Homo sapiens: one gene and its partners. The protein of the gene in region 3 purifies or fractionates together with the protein of the main gene of each other region. This does not show direct contact. Each region holds a gene or a part of one and is shown on either strand. Other genes may lie near its edges.

The links.
Region 1: the proteins of FKBP6 (region 3) and USP19 purify together in Homo sapiens (affinity purification with mass spectrometry; 4 studies listed by BioGRID and IntAct, with this or other methods). This does not show direct contact.
Region 2: the proteins of FKBP6 (region 3) and PPP1R12B purify together in Homo sapiens (affinity purification with mass spectrometry; 3 studies listed by BioGRID and IntAct, with this or other methods). This does not show direct contact.
Region 4: the proteins of FKBP6 (region 3) and PPP1R12A purify together in Homo sapiens (affinity purification with mass spectrometry; 3 studies listed by BioGRID and IntAct, with this or other methods). This does not show direct contact.

Annotation. Positions count from the first base shown.
Region 1 is NC_000003.12:49,117,640-49,125,562, forward strand, and holds the start of USP19 (ubiquitin carboxyl-terminal hydrolase 19), read right to left. Parts: upstream 3,185-7,923; 5' UTR 3,117-3,184; exon of another isoform or gene 2,829-3,116; intron 1,643-2,828; 5' UTR 1,507-1,642; coding exon 1,383-1,506; intron 482-1,382; coding exon 308-481; intron 192-307; coding exon 18-191; intron 1-17. Other genes in the region: LAMB2 (laminin subunit beta-2 precursor), read right to left, coding at 3,587-3,723, 3,794-3,953, 4,045-4,221, 4,305-4,446, 4,524-4,731, 5,065-5,413, 5,493-5,734, 5,808-5,992 and 6 more. UniProt on the Homo sapiens protein: Deubiquitinating enzyme that regulates the degradation of various proteins by removing ubiquitin moieties, thereby preventing their proteasomal degradation. Stabilizes RNF123, which promotes CDKN1B degradation and contributes to cell proliferation.
Region 2 is NC_000001.11:202,351,546-202,358,729, reverse strand, and holds part of PPP1R12B (protein phosphatase 1 regulatory subunit 12B), read right to left. Parts: intron 1-7,184. UniProt on the Homo sapiens protein: Regulates myosin phosphatase activity. Augments Ca(2+) sensitivity of the contractile apparatus.
Region 3 is NC_000007.14:73,323,739-73,331,344, reverse strand, and holds the start of FKBP6 (inactive peptidyl-prolyl cis-trans isomerase FKBP6), read right to left. Parts: upstream 3,185-7,606; 5' UTR 3,073-3,184; coding exon of another isoform or gene 3,031-3,072; 5' UTR 2,917-3,030; coding exon 2,860-2,916; intron 2,771-2,859; coding exon 2,653-2,770; intron 1,986-2,652; coding exon 1,896-1,985; intron 1,196-1,895; coding exon 993-1,195; intron 1-992. Other genes in the region: E3 ubiquitin-protein ligase TRIM50, read left to right, coding at 6,558-6,956. UniProt on the Homo sapiens protein: Has an essential role in spermatogenesis. It is required to repress transposable elements and prevent their mobilization, which is essential for the germline integrity.
Region 4 is NC_000012.12:79,791,917-79,799,100, reverse strand, and holds part of PPP1R12A (protein phosphatase 1 regulatory subunit 12A), read left to right. Parts: intron 1-516; coding exon 517-607; intron 608-1,705; coding exon 1,706-1,906; intron 1,907-2,150; coding exon 2,151-2,319; intron 2,320-3,341; coding exon 3,342-3,463; intron 3,464-5,172; coding exon 5,173-5,238; intron 5,239-7,184. UniProt on the Homo sapiens protein: Key regulator of protein phosphatase 1C (PPP1C). Mediates binding to myosin. As part of the PPP1C complex, involved in dephosphorylation of PLK1. Capable of inhibiting HIF1AN-dependent suppression of HIF1A activity.

The DNA of each region.
Region 1 (7,923 bases), on a different chromosome or scaffold from region 3:
AGGGCAGATGGACACACCTGCAAACCGCACCACACAGTCTGTATCTGTGAAAGCAGCATCTACATCCTCCAGCTGCAGGGGACCTACTCCCACACGAAGCTTGACAATCACCTCTTCTGCACTCTGCCTCCAATCGAGCAACAACTCTGGAGTGGGAGTAGCCAAGAGATCATGAGGGTCTTCACAAGCTCCTGATGGTGATAAGCAGGTAACAGAGACCCAGCCTAATGAAACTGCTTCAGATGGGAGCCAAATTGCAAGTGCCCCCTCCCCTTCCCTAGCAACAAAAAGCCCATTCGTTACTGACCCTCTTTGGTCTGCTCCTCTTGAGGAGTGGATGCTGACCCTGACGATGAAGGAAAGAACAGCCGGGTACGGTGGCGTGAGCCTGTGATCCCAGCTGCATGGGAGGCTGAGGCAGAAGGATCACCTGAGGCCAGAGGTTCAAGACCAGCCTGGGCAACATATCGAGACCCTGTCTCTAAAAAAAAAATAAGAAAAATTAGTCAAGCATGGTGAGGAGGCTGAGGTAGGAGGACTGCTTGAGCCCAGGACTTTGAGGATGCAGTAAGCTACGATCACACCTGCACTGCACTCCAATCTGTGCAAGAGTGAGACCCTGCCTTTAAAAAAAAAAAAAAAAAAGGGACAGGCACGGTGGTTCACGCCTGCAATCCCAGCACTTTGAGAGGCCGAGGTGGGTGGATCACCTGAGGTCAGGAGTTTGTGACCAGTCTGGCCAACATGGTGAAACCCCGTCTCTACTAAAAATACAAAAATTAGCTGAGTGTGGTGGTGCATACCTGTAATCCCAGCTACTTGGGAGGCTGAGGCTACTTGGGAGGCTGAGGCAGCAGAATCACTTGAACCCGGGAGGCAGAGCCCGCAGTGAGCCAAGACGCCACTACACTCTAGCCTGGATGACAGAGTGAGACATTGTCTCAAAAAAAAAAAAAAAATTAGCCTTGCGTGGTGGCATGCACCTGTAATCCCAGCTACTTGGGAGGCTGAGGCAGGACAATCACCTGAACCAGGAGGTGGACGTTGCAGTGAGCCAATATTGCACCACTGCACTCCAGCCTGGGCTACAGAATGAGACTCCATCTCAAAAAAAAAAGGAAAAAAAGAACAGGTTCAAAAAAAAGAAAAAAGTTTAAAAAGGAAAGAAGGCAAGCCCCCCAACAGCACCATCTTCTGGATCTTAGCCAAGTACTCAGGCTTCAAAGCTGAGGCTCTACTGAGGTTATCATGGGTCCTTCTTCTCTCATCATCAAACCAGGACAGAGAGAAGAACAAGAAAGTCATCTCCCAAACCCCAATCTGTATACCAATAAGATGGGAGGCAGAGAAGGCCACAATTACTCTGGGAATGCCACTCCCACCTTTCCTAGGATCTCCATCCTTGCTCTCCTGGTTTGCTCGATCCTTCTGCTTCTTCTTACTAGTGGTGTCCTCCAGTCCTGGGGGCCCTCTCCTTGGGCCTGTGGCACTGGCCCCGCCAGACATCTTGAGCCGCTTGGTCGACAGCCAGAGTGCCCCGGGGTCGGCAACAGCGTCTGGGTCAGGGCTGCGGCGCTTTCTTCCTGGCCCAGCTATCTTGGCAACTCTTTGTGGCCAAATTCTCCAGCAAGGAACGGACAGCCTAATGGAAAGAAGCCAGTGATCACTGCCAAGACCCAACAACTTGCTCTTTAGCTACACCCAGGGCTCAGCAACACAGGACACTAATGCTACAGAGCTGTATCTTCTCATCTCTTAAGTACCCCTGGACACTCTCAGGATATTCTGAAGAGGTAATAAATAATGCAAGTAGCAGCAACCACTTCTGGCCAAGCCTCATAGATACCCACCATAACAGTCCCACACAGGTGAAAGCCTCACTGAGGGGGCACCAGGTCAAGGAAGTCATGGCCTGGGACCAGGCTACTCCACCAATCTGGAGAGGAGCCACGGCTCCAGCCCACAGGGCTGGCACTCCGAGCAGGGTGCTCACTTTTCCTTCACTCTCACTGGCTGCTTAGTCACCACTGGAGAAATAGAAGGTGGAGGAGGAAGGCAGGACAGGAGACAAGCCGCAGGAGAACCAGGCTCTGTGGCTGTAAACAGGCTCAACCCAGGTTCTACCATTGCCCAGAAAAAGTCCTGGGGCTAAGGCACTCCACCTGCCTCCTGCCAGCTCCCACCCTTGGCAAGAACCTGCTCCTATGTACTGCTTGGTCCTTCTTCATTTCAAGAGAAAGTCCTCTCCCCAGCTGCTGTCCCAAGCAGAAAGGGACTGAAAAGTGTATCTAGATGTCACGCTACCTCTTCAGCAGCAACCCTGCTCCAGTACTAAGGCAGGATGGGCATCCAGTTTGAGACTGGAACAGAAATTATCACCTTCCTTCCCAGATGCCTTCACTCATGAGCTCTGAGCCACAAGGACCACTACAGTTTCCCACAGACCCACCAGTGGATTCTGGACTGTTTCCTCCTCCAAAATGAAGGTCTTGAAACTAGATACTGAGATGAGGCTGGGGAGGACCACAGATCCAGGACTCCTGGCAGCCTCAAGCCTGGCCTGAACCAGTAGCAGGACAGATAATGACTAGTCTGTGTTCCCCTAAGTGTGTAAAGGAGGAAGGAGGGATGGCAGGATACCCTTCTACAGGTCAGATGTGGTACTGGTGGGCTGGATCTTTAATGACACCTGCCACCGGCGCCTCCTTCTTGCACCCAGGCCCCAGCCGAAGGTCGCGTCCCTCCCCCATGCCCCAGGGACGTCGAGGCGGGTAAGGGGCTGTTTAGAGACCCGAGCCGGCCTGAAATGGCAGCGCGGGGTTACTGACCACAGATCAGCGCCCCGGTCGAGCTGCGACCCAGCTTCAGCCTCTGAACCCCGAGCCCGCCACCACCTCTCCCACGAAGTTGCCCTCGCTGGCCGCCAGTCCTCTCCCAGGTGGGAGGCTGGCCACAGGCATAGCGTAACGGCCCTGCCGGCATCAGTGGGCTGGCACGCTGCGGGGCACTAGGGGTAGGGACTGGCACGGCCCGTGACCTTGAACAGGCCGCCGCGGCCGCGCGTTGCGGCCTCCCCGCTGCGGCCAAGCCAGCGAGTTGCAGCCTGCTCCACTCACCGAGCGAGACCGCCGCAGCCAGCCCTCTTCGGGCCCTGGCAACCCGCTCTCCGTTCCGGTTCCGGCGCAGGTCGGTTCCGGTTCCGGCGCGCCCCTCCCCCGTCCCGGCGCCGCCGCCACCGCCTTAGCGGCTTGTTTTGTTTCGACTTCTAGCTAAGGCCGAGGGAGGCGGAGCGCCAAGCTGGTGACGCACTTCCGGCGGGAATGGGCTCGGAGCGACCCGCAGCTCCGGGGCGGGCCCGAGCGGAAGGAGGCGGTGCTCGGGTGGCTTAGCGGTGCATGGGTTCTGCTGGGGGCAACCTCGAGGTTCCCCTGGAGACTCCCCCGCCCGCCCCAAATCAGAGTCCAGACAACACAGTGGGGGTTCACACTGGTTTATTGGGGGCCCTGCCGGGCCAAGAGCTCTTCAGTGCATAGGCAGACATGCATGTGGGGCAGTGCTAGGAACTGGGGTAGGCCTTGGGCAGGGGTCACTGGCAGGTGTTGTAGATCTGCACCTGCAAGTTGATGGCTTGAAGCACGCTGCGCATCCTGGCCTCCAACCCGTCCAACTGGGCTGCCTTACTCTCCAGTGCCCGCTCATTTTCCTCATAGGTGCCTTCCAATTCTAGGAAGGGCAGGTGTCAGTTTAGGGGGGGTTTCCCGCAGTCTTGTGTCTCTGGTGCCCCATTTCTTACCCTGTAGCCGCTGCAGCTTGTCCTGAGCGGCTTGCAACAGGTCCCGAGCCTCATCCCGCAGTTGTTCTGCCCTTGCCTGTGCAGCCAGCACACCTTGGGCCTTGCGCTCAGCTAGGGCCTTCACCGTCTGGTACTGATCACCCAGAGGACCGCGTAGCAGCTGCAGATGTAGAGGGTTAGGTTAGCGTGGTAGCTCAGTGGAGGCCCATCTTCCACCCCTACCTTCTCCAGCTGGCTCTGCCTCAACCCACCTGCTCAGCCTCCTGGGCACGACCCTGGGCACTGCCTGCCGTTTCTTCTGCTGTAGAGGCTGCCAGACTATTTCCTGCCCGTTTCAATTTCAGAGCCTCCAGGAGAGCATCCAACTGCCGAGCCCTTTCACCTGCAGAGCTCAGTGCCCGCTCTGCACCTGCCATCCTCTCCTGTACCTGCCATGGGTGAGCCAAAGGTTACACAGATCTACGGTTCATGCCCATAACCTTGTCCCACTGATGTCCTAGGAAGACCTCACCTGGTACAGGGTCTGCTCTGTGTCCCGTGTGTCAGCCACTGCCCCCCGGATGGCACCCTGGGCAATACCCTGTGCCCGCTGGGCCTCCTCCAGTGCTGCCTGTACTGTCTCTGCCTTCTGTTTCTCATCCTCAGCCCAGCTCCTGGGGAGAAGGGGGAATCAGAACCTGGAGGTATCAAAACCAGGTGTCAGGGATAGGGGCCAGGGATGGGGTCAGACCTTGCCCGCCGTGCATCCTGCAGTAGCTGCTCGGCACGACGCACATCTCCTACAGTACGTGCCAGGATCGCATCCACATCTGCCAGGCTCCGGACTCGCTCTGCAATCGCACCCGCCAGGTGCTGGATCTGCTCAGCTGAAGCTGGGATGGAGAGCTCTAGCACCCGTGTGGCCACCATTTCAATGCTATCAGGATCAGCCCCCTCCTCTATAGGGACACAGCAAGAACTTAAGAACATAGATTCTCCAGCATGGGCATGAGGATACAGTTTTGGGGTATGGACTCAGGACATGTACATGGGATAGGGGTTTGTTACCAGGCATAAGGATATAATCACAAGGACAGGGACTATACAAGGGGCTCAGACTCAAGAACATGGACCTGGGACCACATATGGGCAATAACTCAGGAGCCAGTCAAGGGATCATAAACACTAATCCAGTGTAGTCCCTGAGGCTCAAGTATGAACCAAGGGAGATACAGACACCGGGAGTTGCCAAAGGGGACAACCACATGGCCTGGGACACGTGGGAGGCTCACGGTTGAGGAAGTCCTTCACACTCTGGATAAGTTCTTGAAGTTCCTGGTTGGCCTGTTCCACCTGTCCCCTGGAAGCATTAGCCTTGTCCAGGGCTGCCTGGGCCCGCTGCTGTGCCTCGCTTGCCTGCCGACGAGTCTCAGCCACTCTGCTGAGGATGCTACCACCTTCTGCCAGTGCCCGCTGCAGCTCTGCCTGTGTGTGCCGGGCCCGGCCCAGTGCTAGGTCTGCTGTAGCCGCTGCCCCATTGCAGCTGAGGCCCCCACAGCGCGGCTGCCCATCCTCATCTCGACAGCCGGCACCCCCACAAGGGCTTGTAGCACAGGGTGCATCCCCTGGTGCCCCACACACCTGCCAGGCACAGAACAAGTCAGGGCCCTGTGAGAGGAACATCTACACCCACCTGCCCCACCCAACACTTCAACCTCACCAGCTCATTTATGTCTGTCAGGCTCAGGGTGTGGGTATGGGCAGAGAGCTTGCCAAGTGCCCGCTGGTTGGCCATGTGTTTGCTGTTGAAGTCCTCCTTCTGAGCATCCATCAGTGCCTCTGTCCGATGCCGAGCACTTGCCGAGTTGCTCACAGGGCTAGGTACTGCCAGGGCTGAGGTATTGGCACGACGTTCTGCCTCTGCAGACTGGCTATGGGCATGCCGGATGCTGTCATAGGCACCTAAATTGGGCAGAGGCAGACAGTCAGCTGAAGACTGACCCTGGTCCACCTGCCTAGTTGGCTAACAACTCACCCAGGAAGTTTGAATGTTTGAGCAAGTCAAGATGCTGGTCGAGCTGCCGCAGTGTGAGATTAAGTGCAAGCCTATCTCGCTCCAGACCACTTAGTGCATGGTTGGCATTGAAGTTCTCATCTTGCACATCTGTCAGGTCTGCCTCGAGCTGAGTCAGGTGCTCAGTGGCCTCCCCAATTTCACGCCTGCAATGATGGAGAGGGGGGTGTTTAGAGAGGCTTCAGCCCTGGTCCACTGGGCCTCTGCCCCATCCCACCATGTATTCTTAGGCCCTTCCGCACCGCAGCTCCTCTGTGGCCTCCACAAGCTGTGCAGTGGAGGCGGCTGAGGTGTTGCGGGCACCTACGATGCCCTGCACAATGCCCAGCTTCTCCTGCATGTGCCAGAAGCTGCTCTCAAAGGCACCCAGCACACCCGTCTGTTGCAACTCCTGCGCCCGCTGCTCTAGGCGCTGTGTACGGGCTGCCAAGTCCTGCACCACTCGGTCCCAATCCCCGAAGCATGCATGGCAGGGATGGCAGGCAGGAAAGATTCCTGAGAAGCCACGGGCACACTGGTCACAGCGCACACCAGACACCCCTGGGCGGCAGCTGCAGTGACCTGTGAAGCGGTGACACTGAGGTGTATCTATTCCACGAGAGTCACAATCACAGGCTGCAAGAAAGAGCAGAGCACAGAGTTAGGGTCACTGTGGGGCATTCTGGGAAGTCCTCCATCTACCCTGGCCCCGCTGGCTCCCTCACCATGGCACTGCAACCCAGGGTCTCCCCAGTGGAGCTCTTGGCACTCAGAACAAGTCCGCCCTCCAAAGCCGGCACGGCAGTGGCACTGCCCTGTGAACTGGGGTGGGAACAAGGCAGGGTCAGAGCCTCTATAAGAGGCTAAGCCCTGGAGATAAGACAGACACCTGGCCCCATCTAACCAGGGATCTGCAGGAGGGTCCCATACCTCGTTGCAGGTGGGGCCTCTGGCCCGGCTTGGGTGGCAGGCACAAGGCTGGCAACCATGGCCACTGGTGAGGTTCCAGAAGTTGGGGGCACAGCGGTCACAGCTAGGGCCCTGGACATTGGGGAGGCATGGGCACTGCCCACTGCTTGGATCACAGTGGCACTGGTCAGGAGATGGGCACTGCTGCGGATTTGTGCCCAGCAGGTTGCATGTGCAGCCTGTGCCAACCAAGATGAGCACAGTAGTCAAGAGGAGGCCAAGAAGCAGAACCCCAATTCAGCCATGCCCTCCCACACTCATACTCACGGTGACAGCTCTGTCGGGCAGCCTGCCCATGGAAGCCAGGCTTGCAGTGGGCACAGTGTGGACCCTCTGTGTGGTGTAAACAGCGCAGGCATTGCCCCGTGTGGGGGTCACAGGCATCAGGATCCATTGGGTCAATGTTCCCACTGCACTCACACAGTTGGCACCGGCCACCTGGCCTTGATGGGTCCCCAAAGTGCCCAGGGGCACAAGCTTCACATCGCAGCCCTGCCCACGGTTAAGAGGAAGCTGTGAGTGCTCAGCCCAGCCAACTCACCCTGATCCCACGCCTGCCCCCATCCACTCACCCGTATAGCCTGCCCGGCAGTGGCACACAATCTGCTGGGAATATTCATCCTGGTGGCAAGAAGTAGCAAAGTGCCGTTGGCTCCCAGGGCCTTCAGGACAGGGACAGGGCCGGCACTGGCCCCCATATGGCAGCCGTGGGTCCCCGTGGAAACCAGCAATGCACCTGCAGGGAGGAGGAAGAAGAAATGTGTCATCCCTGGGAAGCCTGCCCACCAACCAACCCACTCATAGCTGCTCCAGTCTCACCTTTCACAGTGCTCACCCCCTGTGTGATCACGGCAGCCCAGGCAAGCGCCTGTGTGGGTGTTGCACTCATCTGCATGCCCATTGCAGACACATGGCCGGCAGCTAGGGAATCCCCACTGGCCACGCTGGCAGCGGTCACAGCGAAGCCCAAAGGCACCAGTTCGACAGAGACATTGCCCACTGGTCTTTTCACAGAGACTGCTGAGTGCCCCCTCGTGGCTGCACTGGCAGGCTAGGAGCAAGGCAGAGCTGAGCCAGAGCCAGGGGAGGGGGTCTGAGGGGAGTGTGGGTGGGGGAGGGTCTCAGGGGA
Region 2 (7,184 bases), on a different chromosome or scaffold from region 3:
CAATTTCCAATACTGAAAACTCAAGTTTCAGTTTTTTTTTTTTTTTTTGAGACGGAGTCTCGCTCTGTCACCCAGGCTGGAGTGCAGTGGTGCCACCTTGGCTCACTGCAACCTCCACCTCCCGGGTTCAAGTGATTCTCCTGCCTCAGTCTCCCGAGTAGCTGGGACAACAGGCGCGTGCGACCACGCCCGGCTAATTTTTTGTATATTTAGTAGAGACAGGGTTTCACCGTGTTAGCCAGGATGGTCTCAATCTCCTGACCTCGTGATCTGCCTGCCTTGGCCTCCCAAAGTGCTGGGATTACAGGCGTGAGCCACCGCGCCTGGGCAAAGCTTCAGTTTTTCAATTGAATTGCCTCATGAAACAAACATAAACTCTGCATGCCTGATAAAACTTTAAGCCCCCAAATTTTACTCAAACTGGTTACAATCTAAGATCAGAAGAAACAATTTTTTTAAATGACACTTCAAAAGCAGGAAAAACCCCAACATATTCACAGACAAAAACAACATCAACAAATTGGGCAAGCACTCAATTAGCAATCCAAATGAGGCTTCAATTCCTTGTCCTATATGACATTCTGGGCCAAGGTCTTAATCTGGATTTATTATTACTATGTTGAACCATTAAAGATTTATTAGACATCCCAAACCTCCATATTTCACCATCTTAGAGAAGATATATATGTAATTCTCCTCCATAAGCATAAAATAGTCTCAAATACTGATAAATATAGTACTCCCCTGACACTCCTCAAGAGCCAGAATGCTAGAACAGAAATCGGTTATGTAGCCAATTTCCTATTATAAGTTATAATAGTAACCAACTATTCTGGAGACCAATCCCAAAATTCAAGTTAGTTTCTAAATTGTATCTACTGCTAAGTAAAAGTAACAAGCAGCACAGAATCAGATACACAGTAGACACTCAAGAAATAAATGTAAGAGAATGGCAGAAAAAACTGTTTATTGGTACTAACCTCCCTATCACTGTTCCCCCAAGGCTGCCTTCCAGTGGAAGTGCTAATGAGTGGGAAATGGGCCAAACTAGACTGAGAAGTAAAATAAACTAGATAAGCAGCCATCAGTAATAGGGACATAACTTTCTTGCCCCTATTATCAGGTTTAATATCCTAAAATATTCTTAACTGATGAATAATGAAACCACCTGAACTAGCCAGAATTCAGCTTTTAAAGTGTCTTGCCACATATTTTGGGCCCTCATTTAAATTACAATTATATTGATGGAAAATCTATATTTTTTCTCCCAAAAGTCAACAGAAAGACAAGTTATCCTTAATGCAAAAAAAAACTTCATATAACCTCCACAAAAGTCTTCAAAAATATCTCTACTGAAAGTGCTCTTTCAAAGTTTAAATGACCAAATCCAACAGTCTTTTTACAGGCCTTCTCCTCAATTTCCTTTTACATTATTTACCATCCATTCCTTGAAATACCTCAATATCACTGTTTGTCGGTTCTTCTCTGTATTAGTTTCCTATTGCTGCTATAACAAATTACCATAAACTTAGTTGCTTAAAACAACACAAATTTATTATCATAGCATTCTGGAGGTCAGAAGTCTGAATCATGGCCAGATGCAGTGGCTCACAACTGTAATCCCCAGTGGCTCACACCTGTAATCCTTGGGAGGCCAAGGCGGGTGGATCACCTGAAGTCAGGAGTTTGAGACCAGCCTGGCCAACAAGGCAAAACCACGTCTCTACTAAAAATACAAAAATTAGCTGGTTGTGGTGGTGGGCGCCTGTAATCCCAGCTAATAAGGAGGCTGAGGCAGGAGAATCGCTTGATCCCGGGCAGCGGAGGTTGTAGTGAGCCAAGATTGTGCCACTGCACTCCAGCCTAGGGGTCAAGAGCAAAATTCAGTCTCAAAAAAAAAAAAAAAAAGTCTGAAATCAGTCTCATTGGGCTGAGTTGTCAAATTGCTGGCAGGGCTGGTTCCTTATGTGGAGGCTCTGAGAGAAGAATCCACTTCCTTGCCTTTTTCAGCTTCTAGGGTCCACCTGCATTCCTTGGCTCACAGAACCTTCCTGGAATCCCTGCAATCTCTTGCTTCCTTCATCACATCTCCTATTCTGATTCTGCTCTCTTGCCTGTCTTATATGGATGCTTGTGATTATATTGGGCTCACCTGGATAATCCAGGCTAATCTCCTTATCTCAAGATCCTTAAATTAATCATATCCCCAAAGTCTCTTTTACCCTGTAAGGTAACATATTTACATGTTCTGGGGATTAGGACTTAGACATTTTTGGGGCACCATTAGTCAGCCTACCACATCTTCCAACAGCTCTAACTTGAATTTCTGCATTCTCTGCCTACCAGCTGCTTGTGTTTTCTGCTCTTCTCTGTATGTTTTCTCCCTTTCCTCTTTCACACTCATTACTTCAACTCTCACCTTTATGCTAAAATCAAGTCTCTTGTCTCAAATATGAGAAAACTGGAGCATAGATAGGAAAGTGACTAGCCTTGAGTCACATAGATACCTACAGGATATTTACTTACTTACTTACTTATTTATTTGAGACACAGTCTTGCTCTGCTCTGTCACCCAGGCTGGAGTGCAGTGGTGTGAACACAGCTCACTGCAGCTTCAACCTCCTGGGCTCAAGTGATCCTTCCACCTCAGCCTCCTATGTAACTGGGACCACATGTTTGCACCACCATACCTGGCTAATTTTTTTTTGGGTGGGGAGGGGGTTGGAGAGATAGGGTCTCACCACATTGCTCAGGCTGGTCTCAAACTCCTGGTCTCCAGCAATCCTCCCGCCTTGGCCTCCCAAAGTGCTGGGATTACAGATATGGGCCACCATGCTAAACACCTATAGGAGATTTCTATTTGTACGTCTTCAGAGTACCTCAGTCTAATCGTTGACTGAATACTATTTCTACCTGAATAACACAATTCTTTCAGACTCACAAGCTAGAATTGTACTACACTTTTTTCTCATCTCCATTCACTCAGCTGGTTCTCTCAACTCTGTCTCTCCATTCATTCAGAAATCCAAGTGCTGCTTCAGAATCCTAAAATACTGCTTTGGTTGGGTAACGACCCTGCTCAAACCCACAAAAATTCTCTACTAAGGAGTCCATCAAGCCACCTTGGCCTGATGTTTGATGTTCAAAGCCCTCTAGGATGTCACCCTGACTCTCTCTCATCTCTAACCCTTCAAACACATCCATTAGGATTTCCTAGCATCCTCTGCCTACACACCACACCCATTCCTATTTATTCGCCCATGCTGCTCTACCATCCTGGACTGCCTTCGTTTGTCCTTCCACTTAGGAATACATCCTTTCCAGGGTATCATAGAATTTGGAACTCTAAAAGGAATCTTTTTTTTATTTATCTGTTTCCAAACCTGACTGTTAGTTCCTTGAGGGCAGAAATTATACCACATATATACTCTAGTACAGACTTACAATCTACCATTTAGACATTCAATATTAGTTGTTAATTAAGAATCTAAGAAAACCTCTAAAGAGAAAAATATAGTGGAACACGGCCAGGCATGGTGGCTCACGCCTATAATCCCAGCACTTTGGGAGGCTGAGGCGGGTGGATTACCTGAGGTCAAGAGTTCAAGACCAGCCTGGCCAACATGGTGAAACCCCGTCTCTACTAAAAATACAAAAATTAGCTAGGATGGTCTCGATCTCCTGACCTCGTGATCCACCCGCCCAAAACCCCGTCTCTACTAAAAATACAAAAAAAATTAGCTGCGCATGGTGGCAGGCACCTGCGGTCCCAGCTACTCGGGAGGCTGAGGCAGGAGAATGGCGTGAACCCGGGAGGCAGAGCTTGCAGTGAGCTGAGATCACACCACTGCACTCCAGCCTGGGCGACGGAGCAAGACTCCGTCTCAAAAAAAAAAACAACAACAAAAAAAACAATTAGCCAGGCGTGGTGTCACCCCCCTGTAATCCCAGCTACTCAGGAGGCTACGGCAGGAGAATTGCTTGAGCCCGGGACGCAGAGGTTGCAGTGAGTCGAGATCGTGCACTGCACTCCAGCCTGGCTGACAGAGCGAGACTCTGTCTCAAAAAAAAAAAAGAATGGGACACATGTAATTAATGGCATATTATTCAAATATCAAAAACTTTACTCTAGGCCAGGCATGGTGGCTCTTGTTTGTTTATAGACACAGGGTGTCACTCTGTCATCCAGGCTGGAATGCAGTGGCACGATCATGGCTCACTGCAACTCCAGTTCCTGGACTCAAGCTATCCTCCCGCCTCAGCCTCCCAAGTAGCTGCAACTACAGACATGCACCAACATGCCTGGCTAATTTTATTTTTTTGTAAAGACAAGGTTTTGCTATGTTGCCCACGCTGGTCTCAAACTCCTGAGCTCAAGTGATCCTCCTGCCTCAGCCTCCATCTATTGTGATTATTGGGACAAAATAACTGATGAATGACTGTCATGGGCTGAGGGTGGGAGGAGCTGTCTACCAAGGAGCACAAAAAATCTTGAGGGTAACGTTCTACATCTTGATTACAGTGGTGGTTCCACAACTGTACGCATTTGTCAAAACTCATACGATGCTACACTACAAAGAGTGAATTTTATTGTATATAAAGTATATCTTAGTTTTAAAATATTTTAAAAGAAAAAAATAAACTACTTAGTTTTATGTTAACAACAAGACTGGTCCAACTCCTTACCTTTGGCAGAATTGTGCTTAATCCATATATATTGACAGGTTGCCTATTTCAAAATACTCACAGAGTAGAAGATTCTAAAAGCCCAAATGGTGATATACAGTTATTCAGCAGGAGTTGAAGAATTGGGGAGAGGCCAGGCATAGTGGCTCCTACTTGTAATCCGAGCACTTTGGGAGGCCGAGGGGGGAGGATTGTTTTAGCCCAGGAGTTCAAGATCAGCCCTGGCAACATAGTGAGACCCCCTTGTCTACAAAAAATTTTAAAAATTAGCTGGGTATGATGGGGTGTGCCTGTAGTCCCAGTTACTAAGGAGGCTGAGGTGGGGAGGATCACTTGAGCCTGAGAGGTTGCAGCTGCAGTGATCCATGGTCACACCACCACACTCCAGTCTGGGTAACAGGGCAAGACCCTGTCACACACACACACACACACACACACACACACACACACACACACAAAGAAGAAGAATAGGGAAGAAATTCTGCGGAACAAATGAAAGTCATTTTTATTTATACTTTCAAAAAAAAAAACCACACAGACAAAAAGCTGAATTTCCCAATATGGCTTTGAGGTCCAACATAGTCTGATGCAACATATTAAGCAATTTGAAGAGGTAAGCTACTAAAATGGCTCAGGATAGATGACTATTCTAGATGCACAATAATAAAGGAGCAAACAGGATTTTTCTGAATCCTATGTTGCCATGGGTCCTGACACTAAGCAGAATTCATCAATATTCAGGGTAAGGCAAAAGTAACTTCGCAGGTGGAACCAGGAGAGGAATGAGTAATAAATGTAGAATAAAAGAGAAAAGGTTAAAAGCACAAGTTTTATTTTACCATATGAGTTAGCACACAAAATATACTATTTTATATTGAACTGAACACACATTCATCTTACTCATCTTCTGTCTCTGTCTGAATATAAATTGCTCAGCCTATCCTCCTCCCCTCACTTGTTCCTATCTCCATCTCTCTTCCTGAGAAATACGTGATTTTAGCCTCCCTAAGTCTACAGCGTCAGACTGAGGCAACTCTAGAATGACAAAGGCTTATTCAACTACAAACTGAATTCCAGTCTGGTGTGACCTTGAGGGTCCAAATTTGGACCCTGCACATTACAAAGACAGTCTGAATTTCTTTTTTCTTTTTTTTTTGAAACGGAGTCTCACTCTTTTACCCAGGCTGGAGTGCAGTGGTGTGATCTCAGCTCACTGTAACCTCCACCTCCTGGGTTCAAGCGATTCTCCTGCCTCAGCCTCCCCGAGTAACTGGGACTACAGGTGTGCACCACCACACCAGGCTAATTTTTGTATTTTTAGTAGAGACGGGATTTTGCAATGTTGACCAGGCTGGTCTCGAACTCCTGACCTCGTGATCCACCTGCCTCAGCCTCCCAAAGTGGTGGGATTACAAGCGTGAGCCACCACCCCCGGCCGCCAGTGTGAATTTCTGAGTCAAGTATGGAATTATTCTAATCTCCTTGGTAGCCCTCCAGATGAAGACTGATCAGACCGTGCTAAGAGACAAGACCTATGGTGACTGAAATCCAGCATCCCTCACCACACTCAGCACAGATTTAAGAGTCAACATAATACATGCTGAAGTAAGTAAGCATTCATTTTAATAAATCCTAGAAAAATCTCTTTTCTGAAAGTAGGCACTTGCCTCTTCCCACAGCAATAATTTGGTAGATATCATGTATCTAGGCCTAGAGTACCTAAGATTATAATGCTAAGGATATCAAGATAGGTGCTAACAGTCAAACTTAATAAATAAATAAAAGAAAAAATTTAAAGTACTATTCCACATAGAATTATTAACAAATATTCCTGGCCTTACAATGTGTATACGCAAATGAAACAGAAATTCCTTTGTGAGCAAACAAGTGCTTTCAAGGGTTCTATAATCAGATTAATACCTTGTTAAGGACTCTAGGACAACACATGCATACACACCAAATCTTAATTTAGTCACTGAAATTTAGTCTGCATCAGTTTCCAAGGCTTTCATCAGAGTTGGTCTAACCTTTGAGATACTTCTTATCCCAGTCTAACTCAAGTATTATTAATAGGCCCCCTGGAGCTTGTTATCTTTGACTCAAGCACCTCGTGGTCTCAGCAAAGGCTGCCAAGAAAGAAGGTCTCTAAGTCCAAAAGAAGCATCAAGGCACCACAAGCTGCAGTGCAAATCATCTACTGTGACGTTGTAGGAGGAGAAAAATTGTCCCCCAGTATTATCTGGGGGCTTCTAACATGCCAAGACAATAATCCACAGTTGGTCAAGTGGCCATGGCCAAAAGAGAGAAAAGAAGCAATTATCCAGATAATTTATATCGTGCTTGTATAACAAATGGACATTTTAAATAAATAATTCAGATAATTGTACCACTCACTCTCCATTTCACAGAAGGTGAATCCATTGTAAAGTAGGTGGTTCAGCTACCAACAGCTCCAGTCTCCCATTTGAAAATAGTCTTTTATGTACCTTAGGAGTTCT
Region 3 (7,606 bases):
GTCTTCCCCTGATGTTCTCTGAGGAAGCAGTGTCCCATGGAATCAAAAACTGACGGAACTTGCCAAGCACAGAAGTCAGTGCTCAAAACCACTATTTGGCCACCAAGCACTGAACAGGTCTTGGTTTGCTCAGGGCCCTGGCAGTCTTTATGGTCATGATGCTCTGCCCTGGCCATCTTCAGAGTCACCCATAGAGCCTCTCTGGTCCCGGCCCCACCCCCCAGATCCTAAATGAGTTCACCACAGGTGGGACGAGGCATTTGCAAGAAACTCGAATCTCAGAATGATGAAAAAGGGTGAGCTCCCTCACTTGGAGTGCTGACAGTTTAGCTGGGGAGACTCCATGTGAAGATATAAACCCTGGCATGGACCTCTAAGGCCACAGATGGAGTCAGTGTGAGACAGCATGATAAAGACAGTGCCTGTGACTGCTGACGGGGTCAGAAGCCCTGCATCTACGGGACAGGGTTAAGTGAAAGGCTACAAAGAGGAGGCAAGACTTAAGTGGTGAGGACAGTGGCCATACATCCCAGTTTGCCTGGGACTGTCTCAGTTTAAACCCGATGTCATGGGTAACCCCTCCAGTGAACAGCCCCTTTTACTCTCACCTGTGCTGGGCTGGACAATCAATTATTCAGTCACCCTAGTTATGAGCTACCAATGCCTGCCTTGCTGGAAACCAAACGATGAAAAGCAAGTGTTCACTGTCTCACAGGGAGAACTAGGCAAAGGATGACTGAAAAATCAGTTCAAACCACTAATCCTTAAACTCACAGCCTTACCTTGCCCAGCACATTTATCTACACATGAGAGCCATTACTAAGACAAACACAGACTAGGAAGCAGAGGAACTCCGCCGCCACCGCACAGGAGCCGCGGGGGTACCCTGGAGAGGACGATCAGCCTCAGGGCAGGCCATCTAGAAGAATTACCAATAACACCAACCCATTCGTCTCTCTATAAAGTGCTGACATCTGTGCTCTGGAACTTACAGCTGAGAGAGCACAAAACTTGTCTGACTCAGCACAGTCCAGGAAGTCAAGCAGCTCAATCTCAAACAGGACAGTGGTGTTTGGGGGGATCAAGGGAGGGCAGCCCAGCGTTCCATAGGCGTAGTTCGGTTTGAACAGAAACCTGGCCAGCTCTCCTCTCCGCATGCTCAGAAGGCCCAGCTCCATGCCCCACAGTGTAATATCTGTAAGAATGGACAAAGAAGGTGGGTGAAGCTTGCTCAGTATCCTGCTCAGTGCTATCAGTTTCTTCCCCCTCTAAGTCAGCAGTACTCTGGCCTCCATGTCTCCCTCACACAGTTCCCTCTTCCTGCAATGTCTTCCTCCTGAGCCTGTGCCCAGCTTCTACTGATATAAATTTTATTCAAACTTCCAGGCTCAGTTCAAATGCCCCCACTTCCAGGAAGCCTTCCCTGAACCTCCCAGCTAGAATTAATCATGCCTTCATTAAGCACACCCACAACACTGCTTTCACCTCCCAGGCACTCATCCGATTCTACCAAGTGAGCTGAGTGCAGGTCAGTCTCCTCCACTACATTGTGAGGTCCTTAAGGGTGGAGATGTTCTAATCTTCTGAGTACATCCTCTCTTTTCACCATGTATTGTGGGAAGTAAGTATTCGATTGAGTTTTACTTAATAAATGAACAAAGAAACATTCCCAGTGGTTAGTTAAGTCAGAGTGCAAAGATTATACCTTGCCCGTTAAGCCATCTCCCAAATGCCTAGGTCTCAAGGGGAGAGAACATGGCTGTGTTACCAAAACCCAGCCTCAGCAAAGCCAACTCAAAGAACCTGCGCTCTGAGCAGTCTTCCCAGCCTGAGGCATCGTGCCTCATCTAGCCCCTAAACAATTCCTTCTTCTCCAGCTCCCACTCTGAACCTACCCTCTCCAAGTTTCATTAGCCGAGGAGTTTTCCTAAAGTAATTAGAATCGAAGGGTCTGTCCATGTGTTCCAGGTATCCCGAGTATTTCACTAGGATAGAAGAAAGAATGTAAGGAAAATGGACCAAAAACACCCACGCCACCATAATATCGAGTCTCTCATGATCACACAGAAACAATGTGAACAGATGAGCTTAAGCTGCCCGACACCCCGAGGTACAGGAATAAATCTTCTCTCTGCATTTTGGGTGCCGGCCCTTTGGCTCAGAGGTTCAAGAGCTTTGCGGAAGCATCACACAAAGGGGACATAGGAGTCCCTAGCTTTCGTCTTAAAAAAACTAATTCAGGCCGGAAGCAGCGGCTCATGCTTGTAATCCCAGCTACTGGGGAGGCTGAGGTGGGAGGCTCACTTGGGTCCAGGAGTCTGAGACCAGCCTGGGCAACATAGAGTCCCCCATATCTACAAAAATATTAAAAATTAGCCGGGCATGGTGGATCGCGCCTGTAAATCCCTTATTTGGGAGGCTGAGGCAGGAGAATCACGAGCCCAGGAGGTGGAGGCTGCAGTGAGCTATGATCGCACCACTGCACTCCAGCCTGGGCAACTGAGCAAGACCCCGTTTCAAAAACAAAAAACAAAAATCCACTTCAAACAAAGCATTTCCAACCCCATTAAGTGCTTTTTGAAAATGAGGCCTCTCTCTTCCCAACAGAGTGCGATGACATGGATCCTGAGGACAAACCGCCCCAGGGCGTACCTAGCACCGAAGCATCAGGCGCCACTAGGTCTCCAGCTCCTTCTCGGATGACGTCCTTCAGCACGCCCCGGTCCCCCGAGATGTCCAGCATCCTCTGACTTAACCGCTCGTACAGGGACTGATGGAGAATGAAAGCCAGGCCTCAGAGCCGCAGACCCACCCGGCCACCCCTCAGCGTCTACGCCCCCGAAACGTCTGGGCCCTCACCTGGCCGGGGGCGTCGTCCCCTTCCAGGACTCCCTGGTTTAACGCGCTTCCCCCCATGTCCTAGCTGCCCTCCCTGTGGCGTGAGCCTTCGGCCTGGTGCGCCCCGCTGCCCTCCCTGGCTGTGACTCTGGTGGGGTTCCGAAGGCCCCTTTATGCCCGGCAGACCCCTACCGACGGCGGCATTCCATTCTGGGGCCACGAGGAGGCACTCATCGTTTCGTTCCAACCGCCGCCAACGGCCCTGGCCCTCGCGAGCTCTGGAACTACAGAGGCCACGCGGTGAGGTGCGAGGTATGATCCGTAATGGGAGCGCACGAAACATGATGGGACACGTAACGGGACCACGCAGGGCACGTTGGGTACGTGCAGGGGCGCGAGGTGGCGGCACGTAATGGGAGCGCGCAGAGCATGATGGGGCACGCGCGGTAGCGCGAGGCGGGGCATGTAACCATAGCGTGCGGGTCATGATGAGGCACGGACGTGGGGGGTTAGGTGGGGCACGTAATTGGAGCTCGCGGGGCAGGATGGGGCATCTAACTGGAGCGACAGAGAGCACGATGGGGCACTTACAGGGGCCGGAGGCTGGGTACGTAACGAGAGCGAGCGGGAAATGATGGGGCACCTAACGAGCACGCAGAGCATGATGGGGCACGGGTGCGAGGTGGGGCGCACAGTGGGAGCGCGTGGGGCATGATGAGACACATGGCGAGGCCATCAGGGCACAGGGGAAGCACTTTTGGAACACGTGAGTGACAGGGCTGCCGCCCTTGAAGGAGCCCTCGGAGTGGCTGCGTGGTGGGGCACGTGGGGCAGGTTCAGGAAAAAGGATGCAGCATGTGATTGCAGGGCAACCTGGTGAGGACACGAGAGCCACCTGCCACCAGCAGGGTTCAGGGCTCCCAGCTGTGGGTTACTTCCACCTTCTTTCACTTTCTCTCTTCCATTGTGTTCTAGAGAATTTAGGCCCAGACAAGACACTGATTGATTGATTGATTGATTGATTGACAGAGGCTCGTTCTGAGCCCAGGCTGGAGTTCAGTGATGGATCTCAGCTCACTGCAGCCGCCACTCCCTGGGCTCAAGAGATCCTCTTGCCTCAGCCTCCCGAGTAGCTGGGATTACAGAACTGCACCACCAGGCCCAGCTAATTTATTTTTTAGTTTTTAATTTGCTGGAAAGATGGTTTGTAGCTTTGTTGCTAGGCTGGTCTTGAACTCCTGGCTTCAAGTGATCCTCCAGTCTTGGCCTCCCAAAGTGCTGGGATTATAGGCGTAAGCTACAGCCAACTTTCAATACTGCCCCATTGGGGGTTAAGTTTCCAACACATGAAATTAGGAGGATACATTCAAACCACAGCAGTATATTATGACCATAATATTCATTAACTGTATAACAGGACAGGCGCGGTGGCTCACACCTGTAATCCCAGCACTTTGGGAGGCCAAAGCCGGTGGATCGCTCCAGGTCAGGAGTTTGAGACCAGCCTGCCCCACATGATGAAACCCCATCTCTACTAAAATTACAAAGAATTAGCCGGGCATGGTGGCAGGCGCCTGTAACCCCAGCTACTTGGGAGGCTGAGGCAGGAGAATCACTTGAACCCGGGAGGCGGAGGTTGCAATGAGCCAGATTGCGCCACTGCACTCCAGCCTGGGTAACAAGAGCAAAACTCTGTCTCAGAAAACAAACAAAACCTGTATAACAGAGTGTCATTGAATTTCTAAACGTTGAAAGACTTCACATTAAAAAAAAAACTCACAATTCAATATTATTGAGTGAAAGTAACCAGACACAAAAGAGTACATTCTATATGATGCTGTTTATGTGAAATTCAAAAACAGTCCACATGACAACATGGTAATAAGGACAGTGGCTGTCCTTGTTAGGAGTTATGACTGGGAGGAGGCAGGAGGGAGCTTTCTGGAATCACTCTACATCTTGTTCTTGAGAGTGGGTGTATATACATCAAGTGTTTATCAAGCTGTGTGGTTAAGATTTGCACACTTGTATATGTTATACCTTGATTTAAAAAATCTAAGTAAATAAGGATACCTTTGAATATCTTAAAAAAAAAAAAAAAAGAGGCCAGGCTTGGTGGCTCACACCTATAATCCCAGCACTTTGGGAGGCTGAGGTAGGAGGATTGCTTGAGGCCGGGAGTTCAAAACCAGCCCAGGCAACAAAGCGAGACCCCTGTCTCTACTAAAATAAATAAAACAATAAAATGAAAAAAAATAGAGAGATTGAATCATCATCTGCCAGTTTGTATTAGAAAAAAAGAGAGAGAGAGGGAAGGCTGGGTGCAGTAAGGCTCACGCCTGTAATCCCAGCACTTTGGGAGGCCAAGGTGGGAGGATTGCTTGAGCCCAGAAGTTGAAGACCAGCCTGGGCAACAAAGCAAGACCCGGTATCTAAAAAAATTTTTTAAATATTAGCTTGGCATGGTGGCATGCACCTGTAGTCCCAGCTACTCAGGCAGCTGAGGTAGGAGGATGGCTTGAGCCTAGGAGTTGGAGGCTACAGTGAGCTATGACCACGCCACTGCACTCCAGCCTGGGCAACAGAGCAACAAGCTGTCTTTCCCCACCCCCCAGCCCCCCCGCCCAAAAAAAGGAGAGTAAGAGCAAGAGTTTGAGATTCAGAAAGAACTGTTTCCCAGCACCTATCTGCTCCTGTTGGGGTCATGAGGTGTGGACGGTGTACCCAGTCCCTCTGTTTCTGCCCCTCCTCCACAGTGGCCAAGGCCAGCACCTGAATGTTATCAGAGCAGGCCCAACAAAGGCTGCCTCCCCAGTCCCGTGATGTAACCCAGTTTCCACCTGATTCTGGTGACCTTGGGGACACAGGGGTGTTGCTGGGAAAGGGGAGGAGAGAAGGGGCAGAGACCAGGCAGTGGTGCAGGCGTCCAGCTGCATTTCCCACTTCTGACTCTGTGCCTGCTGTTCCCTGCTGGGAAGAAGGAAAGCCAGTGATGCTGGCTTGAGGCTGTAGTGGGAGGCCCAGCGGATTGTGAGAAGCCAGGTATTCCAATGTCGGGCTCCCCCGGGGGCTGCTGGTGCTGCTTCTGTCTCATTGACAAGCTTTCATAGGGGAGCAGGTGGGAGATCAGGGTAGAGGCCTTGTAGGTTCCAGGCTCTCTAGAATTACCTGGGAGTGTCACCTATAAGTGTAGAGTTCTGGGTCTCACTGGAGACCCCCTGAAGAAGATCCTTTGAAGGTGGGCCTCTAGAATCTCTATTACACCTATGCTTTCAACAGTTTCCCGAAAGTTTGGGAACTGATCTAGAAGGTGGGGAGCTTGCCTAGGTTTTGCTGTTCAGTTCTAGGTCCGGATGCATGCTGGGGCTGGACCTTGCATTATTAGTGTCACTGCAAATGACCCTGCAGATGGCCCCTTTCATGCTTGTCTCCAAATTTGAGTAAAAAATGTAGACACACACACACACACACACACACACACACACACACACATATCTTCAAGGGACCAGTTTTTTTCACTGCAGTCTTTTGTTTTACAGCTGCGGAAACTGGGGCCCAAGGTCATGTGGGTTAGGACTGGGATCCAGGACTCAAAGTGTTTCCTCTAAAATTCTGGTGCTCCTTAGGGTTGAGGGTGGTGGATGAGTGCTGGACAGGGGGAGGGGAGGGGACAGGACTGAGGTCGGATGCCTGTGTTTCAGCCCGGGCAGTGAGTGTGGATGGCTTGGCAGGTGAGCCTGCCAGAGCTGGAGGACCGGCTTCAGTGTCCCATCTGCCTGGAGGTCTTCAAGGAGCCCCTGATGCTGCAGTGTGGCCACTCTTACTGCAAGGGCTGCCTGGTTTCCCTGTCCTGCCACCTGGATGCCGAGCTGCGCTGCCCCGTGTGCCGGCAGGCGGTGGACGGCAGCAGCTCCCTGCCCAACGTCTCCCTGGCCAGGGTGATCGAAGCCCTGAGGCTCCCTGGGGACCCGGAGCCCAAGGTCTGCGTGCACCACCGGAACCCGCTCAGCCTTTTCTGCGAGAAGGACCAGGAGCTCATCTGTGGCCTCTGCGGTCTGCTGGGCTCCCACCAACACCACCCGGTCACGCCCGTCTCCACCGTCTACAGCCGCATGAAGGTGGGGAGTGAGGGTGCAGGGGCGGCTGGAGAGGCCCGCGGGGACCAGATCCTGTGCTCTCTGGTGCCATCACCTGGCACCAAAAGGATCCAGCTATCCTCGATTTCCCTGCAGCTGTGCCCTGGCGCATTCATTCCTTAGCGTTTGAGCTGCAGCTCAACCCAGGTGCCGGGGATTGAAGCCACACGAACAGGATGGGAGCTCCCTGGTGTCACGTGCTCACCCCTTCCTGTTTTTTTATTTGCAGTTCTGGTTTGTTCCTTTTTCTTTTCTTCCTTCTCCTTCCCTCTTCCCTCTTCCCTCTTCCTCTCCCTCTCCCTCTCTCCTTTCTTTTTTTTCTTTCTTTTTGGAGACAGCGTCTCACTCTGTTGCCCAGGCTGGAGTGCAGTGGTGTGATCATGGCTCACTGCAGCCTCCAACTCCTAGGCTGAAGCAATCCTCCCACCTCAGCCTCCCGAGCAGCTGGGGCTACAGGTGCACACCACCATGCCCAGCTCATTTTTCATATTTTGTAGAAATGGGGTCTTGTTATGTTGCCCAGGCTGGTGTTGAACTCCTTGGCCTCCAATGATCCTCCTGCCTGGGCCTCCCAAAGTGCTGGAATTATAGGCATGCACCACTGCCCTAGGCCCCTTGTTTGTGTCTGGACA
Region 4 (7,184 bases), on a different chromosome or scaffold from region 3:
AAAATACTGTAGGTAGAGAATAATTTAAAACCCCTTTTAGTAGGTCATTAAGTAAGATGCTTAGATTATCACTTTTGGGGGATGTTTTCAGGGCTGGAGAAGAGGACCTTCCTCAGTTAAAAACAGACAAAAAATTTACTCCTTATCCATTCTGCTTAATTGGGCTAAATGAAATCCTTCTATTTTTTTCAATAGAGCTAAAATTTTTAATCTTCAGTTCTCTAAATCCTTTTTAAAAATGTGGTTCCATCTTAAAATTAAATTACATTATTTTAAAAAATGTAGTTAGGAAGTTAAAATGTGATGTTAAAATATAATTATTAAAATATAACTAGTTCCAATCTAAAAAGAAATTATAAGATTGCATTATTGAATTTCAAAGACCATTTTCTGAAGACTTTTCCTTAAAACTTACTAAGATATTAAACCTGTATGTTTTATTCATATGCATTGATAGATATTTACATTCACAGGTATTGTATTTACAACTAACGATTTTTCAATTTACTACTGTAGATCATACCTCACTCCTGTTAGGGATGAAGAGTCTGAATCCCAAAGAAAAGCAAGATCTAGACAAGCAAGACAATCTAGAAGATCAACACAGGTATAGTTAATGTAATTAATATATAAAACTTACATAAGTAGCATATAAAATATATATACACACACTGACATAAAACAAGTTACCTTTCTCTTTTTCACTTTGTTGTGAAAATATTGATGTCAGTATATAGTGTGAGTAAATCCTTAAAAGGTAAAGGTTGCTGTAGTTATTCTAGTAATTCTAGTGTGAATAAATCCTTAAAAGGTAAAGGTTGCTCATAGCCTTTTGTATGGTTACACTGCTACTATTGTATTTCATCTAATTAGCATATGCCTTTGTGTCTTTTTGAGTATTTTTTAAATCCTTATTCCTAATACAGTGTCTGGCCCAGAGTATTTGGTTAGAATAAATTAATCATATGATGTCTAATAAGTATTTAAAAGTTCTATGAATATTTGGAAATCGGGGGCAGAGAATAGGCTCGTATATTAGGTATAAACAACTAATATGCAAGTATGAAGAAAATGTCATTCAGGCTGGCGATCTCCTTACCTCCGTTTTGCCATTCTGATTATGCTGTATATGATGTATACTTTTGTGTCTTTCTGCTTTCCCACAGTTAAGAAGCTCCACAGTCCAGATTCAGCTGTCTATCCTTACCATTACTTAGCTTTCAAGCTGAACTATTTGCTAGGGCCTTAATATACTTTTTCTGTCTTTATACTTTTCACTTCTTGAAATCTAACCTGTTCTTCAAGGTCAAATCTTGAAAAATTTATCGAAATCTCTTTTAAGCCTTAACAATCATCATGCATGTGTATATAGATACATATACACACATATATATACACACACACAGACATATATATAAACATAAATATTTATAATATACAAACAGTACAGATACTGGCTATTCTTCTCTAGTTTGAACTTGTGGGGAACATTTATATGCATAGAGTATCCAGTACCTATCGTTGTGCTTGCTAATGGTGATTCTTCATAGAATGAATGTAACTTGCTGTTTCCATTTGCAAACCAATTTTAAACATGCATATTTGACTTTTAATGCATTTGTATGTAATATATCTATTTCTAAAATATTCCTTGAAACAAGCTTTAATGCATCTCATAATTATATTGATCTTTTTGTGTGTGCAGGGAGTGACATTAACTGATCTTCAAGAAGCTGAGAAAACAATAGGAAGAAGTCGTTCTACCCGAACCAGAGAACAAGAAAATGAAGAAAAAGAAAAAGAGGAAAAAGAGAAACAAGATAAAGAGAAACAAGAAGAAAAGAAGGAGTCAGAAACATCTAGAGAAGATGAATATAAACAAAAGTACTCCAGAACGTATGATGAGGTAACAGTATATCAAAAGCACATTTAAGTCAAATGGTATGAATAGTCCTTATGATCCTTAACATACAAGAGATTTATATACCAACAAACCATATGCAAAATACTGTAAAGGATTTTAGCTGGAAATTTGAATTACTTTGGCGTGATTAGTATACTACTTTTTCTTTGAAATGAATTTTTAAGTATTTTTATGTTTTTAATTGTGTTTAATGTTTCAAATGGGTTTTGATCTTAATGTTTCACAGACTTACCAGCGTTATAGGCCAGTATCAACTTCAAGTTCAACCACTCCATCCTCTTCACTTTCTACTATGAGCAGTTCACTGTATGCTTCAAGTCAACTAAACAGGCCAAATAGTCTTGTAGGCATAACTTCTGCTTACTCCAGAGGAATAACAAAAGAAAATGAAAGAGGTAAGAATACCAAATTTTGAAAACACTTTGCTTTCTTCATATAATCCTTTGGATTAGGGTTTCCTAAATAATAATTCAACAGTAAAGGAACAGCATCCTAACTTGTGATTCATCGAACCTAAACAGAAAGAATATGAAGGTTGAGAATGAGAAAAGTAGAAAACAGAAATAGAATATGGCCTGCTGTTGATACTAATATTTTTATAACCTAATACTTCACAAAAATCTTCATGTCCACCTACAACGAAAAGTTAATATCGAACTGGTGGGTGACTATTTCTAGAAGCAGTTTACTAGTGTAGTACTTCTCAGATGCTTTAAGCTATTTCTTGCCTACTGTGTAGATCATATCATTTAAATGTTTTTTTGTGAAATTGTTGTAAACTAAAATTACTAACTACATGTAATGCTCTCACTAAAACACATTTTTATGCTTATTTCTTAAAAAATACATTTCTTTCTCAACTATATATTGGCATATTGATACTCATTACCATTTCCTATTATTTTATATAAACTTTCTATTTAAATTCTGAGTAATTCCTACTTTAAATCAGATATAAGTACTAAATATAGGCATTTCATATTTTAAAGCCTAAATCTTACAGTATTAGTCATGATAATATCAGTAGTAATGTAGAATAAACAGCAGAAAATAAAGTTTTTTCCCAATTTCCAGCTATATATTTTCTCATGTTGATCATTGAGATGTTTCAGTTCTTTAAACTTCTATGTGTGAGGCCTGCATTGTGTTTGTAAAAATGTTGAACCAACATTTAAAATTAGAGATACTCACTTCAAACTTCAGATTTTTGCCATTTCTTGAAAAGTTGGCTGACCTGGCAACACTGGATCTGAATTCTCACATACCAACAATTGGCTGGAGCTAAGTAGTAGCAGCTGCCTACCTTCCATCCCCCTAGATAGTCCCCTGGCCCATTTTACCCATTGTTTTTACAATTACCTTGCAAAATATTGTCAAGATATATTGCTATATTGTGGTTCATTGCAATCCTTAACAGAGGGAGAAAAAAGAGAAGAGGAGAAAGAAGGAGAAGATAAATCACAACCTAAATCAATCAGAGAACGACGACGACCAAGAGAGAAAAGAAGATCTACAGGAGTTTCATTTTGGACACAAGATGTGAGAACCTATTAAAATACATTATTTGATAGTATTCTTGATAGTATTCTTAATGTGTCCAAAAATACATACTAATAATTTCTTATATGCCTTAGATTTCATATTCCTTAAATCATCACTGTGTTTTCTGAGTTGTTAAATAAGAAAAATTATTTTTAAGGATAGTTAACTACTTAGATTGTTGGTACTACTTAAAAGGAGTGGTTCTGACCTAATTATGGAATAGAAATAATAATGTCTGAAGCTCAGAGTGCATGTATTGATTATTTTATAATAGGTAAACTGCTTCTTGTAAAAACATCTTTTAAGAATTTCTAAGGAGTCTATTTAATTTCATTTTCATAAATATCATTATAAGATCTACATTACAGATTACTTCCATCTCAAAGCATGCTAAATAGACACAGTGCTTTGCTTATCAAATTACAACAGTCTTGTAAAAATTAGTGTTTTCCTGGTCCTTGATTGTAGGCCTGACATTGCTATTCATTGATTTTGTTTCCATTTTCTAAAAAATAAACCTTTTATTGAAGTATGGCATGTTTAGAAACATAATTCATACATGTATAGCTTAATGGATTAGCACAATAGGAGCATATCTATGTAATCACCACTCAGAATGATGAATAAAAACAGCAGTGTAGATTGCCCCCATGTTCTCCCTCTCAATCCCTATCATCCTCATTTTCAAAGTCAGCTAGTATCCTGATTTCTAACACCGTAGTTAACTATGCCTGTTTTTGAAGAGCATATGACTAGAACTATAAATTTTATAACTGTTATGTTTATAAGATATATCTATGCTATTTTATGTAGCAGTACATTTACTTCTATTGTTATAAAAATATTTTTTAAAGAAAATTTCTAACTATTCTTTCACTGAAAGAACATGGAATCATCTGTCTTCCTGTTAAACTGACCCATCTCTCACTATATGTTCCTCTTTATCTCTAATATTATATCTGACCTTAAATTCTGCTTTTTTGAAAAGCTTCCTTTTGATTATCTTTGTATAATATATCTTTTCTGTTATTTTCAATTTATTTGTGTTTTTTTTAATAAACAACATATTTAGGTCAACTTTTTTCTGAACTTTTTTTTAATTGCAGTGTTTCAGTCCATTTTAATTTTACTTAATTACTAATTACTTAATTACATGAAACAAATAACATTGTCATTTGCAGTTTAAAATATATAAAGAGCTAAGGCATATGAAAACAATAGCACAAAAATATGGGAAAGTATTAAATGGAGTTGAAGAGTTTTAGTATCTTCGCATTGTCCATGCTGTGGACAAAATATATATTCAACTTGATGAATCAAGAGTGCATATGTCTATTTAAAAAAGTTTAAAAAGAGAGGGAAAATCATACATAAATGACAAAGAAGGGAAGAACAGATGGGGAAATCGGAAAATAGTTTTCTATTTTTCTTTTGATTTTTAATATAGAAAAGTTAAACATATACTTTATAGAAGTAACATAATAGTATAATGAGCCCTACCCCCAGTATTCATTTTTTCAGCTAAATTCCCACTCCATCTCCCAACTCCCATATTATTTAGAAGAAAATCCTAGACATCTCATTCTATCTACAAATGTCTCAATGTATATTCTGAGAGAGAAGGACTCCCAAAAATAATTTTAAAAAATAAATTTTGAAATTATTACTAAAATTTCCTAAAATATAAATTGGCAATCTGTTTTTAGAGTGATGAAAATGAACAAGAACAACAATCAGACACAGAAGAGGGATCCAATAAGAAAGAAACTCAGGTAAATACCATTACTTTTTGTATTGAGAAGTATTCATATTTTTTAATAATTACTTTTAAATTGCGTTTTATTATGTTTATTCATGCAAAGCAGTTATTGCATACTCTACCTACATGCTGGGTATGCAATATCAGTGTTTGCCTGGGGATCAGGATTAAAAGGACTGGGAAGGGTCACAAAATAATGTTTTGGAGGTGATGAAAATGTTCTGAGTCTTGATCCTAGCAGTGGTTTTATGGATATACAGAACTGCCAAAACTCACCAAATTGTACACTCTAAGTGGATGTAATTTAATGTATGTCATTTAACCTTCGGAGTTAAAAGAAAAAGCAAAAAAAGAAATAGTACCCTTGGCCAAAGGAAAATATCTAAAGGATAATCAGAAGTAGTGGAAATCCAGAAGTAGTAGGCTCAGATTTTATTTCTGTAGATTTTATTTCAAAGTTATGTTCTGGAGAATATAGGCATCTTTTAACTTTCTTTTACATATATTTAGAAATTTAGAGTCTCCAACAGATTTTTATGTTGAGAATCTAAAAGACATTTTTTTCCTCTCAGTACTGATGAAGGACCTAAAGCAAGTTTGAATGACAAGGCTGCACAGCCAGCAAGGGTTGAAAGTTCCCCCGACCCCCTTCCTGATTGTTTGGCTGTGTAGAAAGCTAAAAAATATTCAAAATATTTCTGTTCATATGAGGATAGAGCTGAACAACACGAGTCTAAACCTGGCACTGTCTAGCATGAAATAGCATTCTGGTCATATTAATATTATTTTCTTCATTTTGAGTTGAAGTTCCTTAATAGAGCTATTACATTTCTTTTTAGTCAGCAAGGATCTACAGTAATGTGAACAAAAGTTGGTTACCTGTGCTAGGTGACGGTGAACATTATTTTAGGGCCAAGTTTGCCTATTTTGACCCCACAATTTTATTTTATCTTTAGGTGGCCAGACAATGAGGAGTGAATTGGTTCTGAGGTTAAATTATTTGCAGGCCTAAAGCTTTAACTGTTACCTAAATTTTTTGGTTATCAGTTATCAGAACTCCCCAATTTACCTATGTCCCTTCTTTATTAAACAAGAGGGGAGGAAATTAGTAAACCATCCCCATCTGACACCTCTCATTGCCTTATCACGCAGACTCCAGCCCCCACCAGGCTGGAGTGGAAGGGAGATTGTCTGGCTTTTAAAGTTGTAATTTTGAAGCATATTGATGTATACTGTATTTTAAGTTTTACTGTTAAAATCATATGAGATACGTTAAGATGAAGAGGAACATTGTTTCTAAGACGAAAAGTTTTTTTATTTTCAATTTAAGTAGTTTTTGTTTACTTTAGATTGTTTAGAGTTCTTTTAAAGTAATGAATAACATATAAATAAATATAACAAATATAAATAACAATATGAAACCTAAGTCAAACTGGATTAAACAAAGAAAATGTATTGTACTCCAGTTATATTCTGCAGTCCTTTGTGTCAGCTTCATCCTCAGGCTGATGTACCTCATAGGGATAGGATTATAGTTGGCTTAGGATAGACAGGGCCTATCACTGAACTGTTGCAGCCATTTTGCTACCAACATGGGCCATGTGTCATCTCACCTAAACCTAGTAACTGCTATACCATGAGAAAAAGGAAGAATGGATGTAGATAAATAAATAAGGTGCAATGTATGTGCATAGATCAATATTTTCTATATTCACATAGATATTATGTGTCCAGAAAAGGTTGGTTAGATAACAGTGGTTATCTAGAGAATGGAGGGATGAGGAATTACACAGGAACTTTGTATACCATTATGTGAACTTTACAATACCATAGTCAGAAAGATATTTCTGAATATCTTTCTATATATTTTAATCTTTTTTATCTTTAAAAAGATATTTTTACTTTGGAAAATTAATCTTAAAATTTGGGGAACAAGGGCGTTATGCTAAATGAAATAAG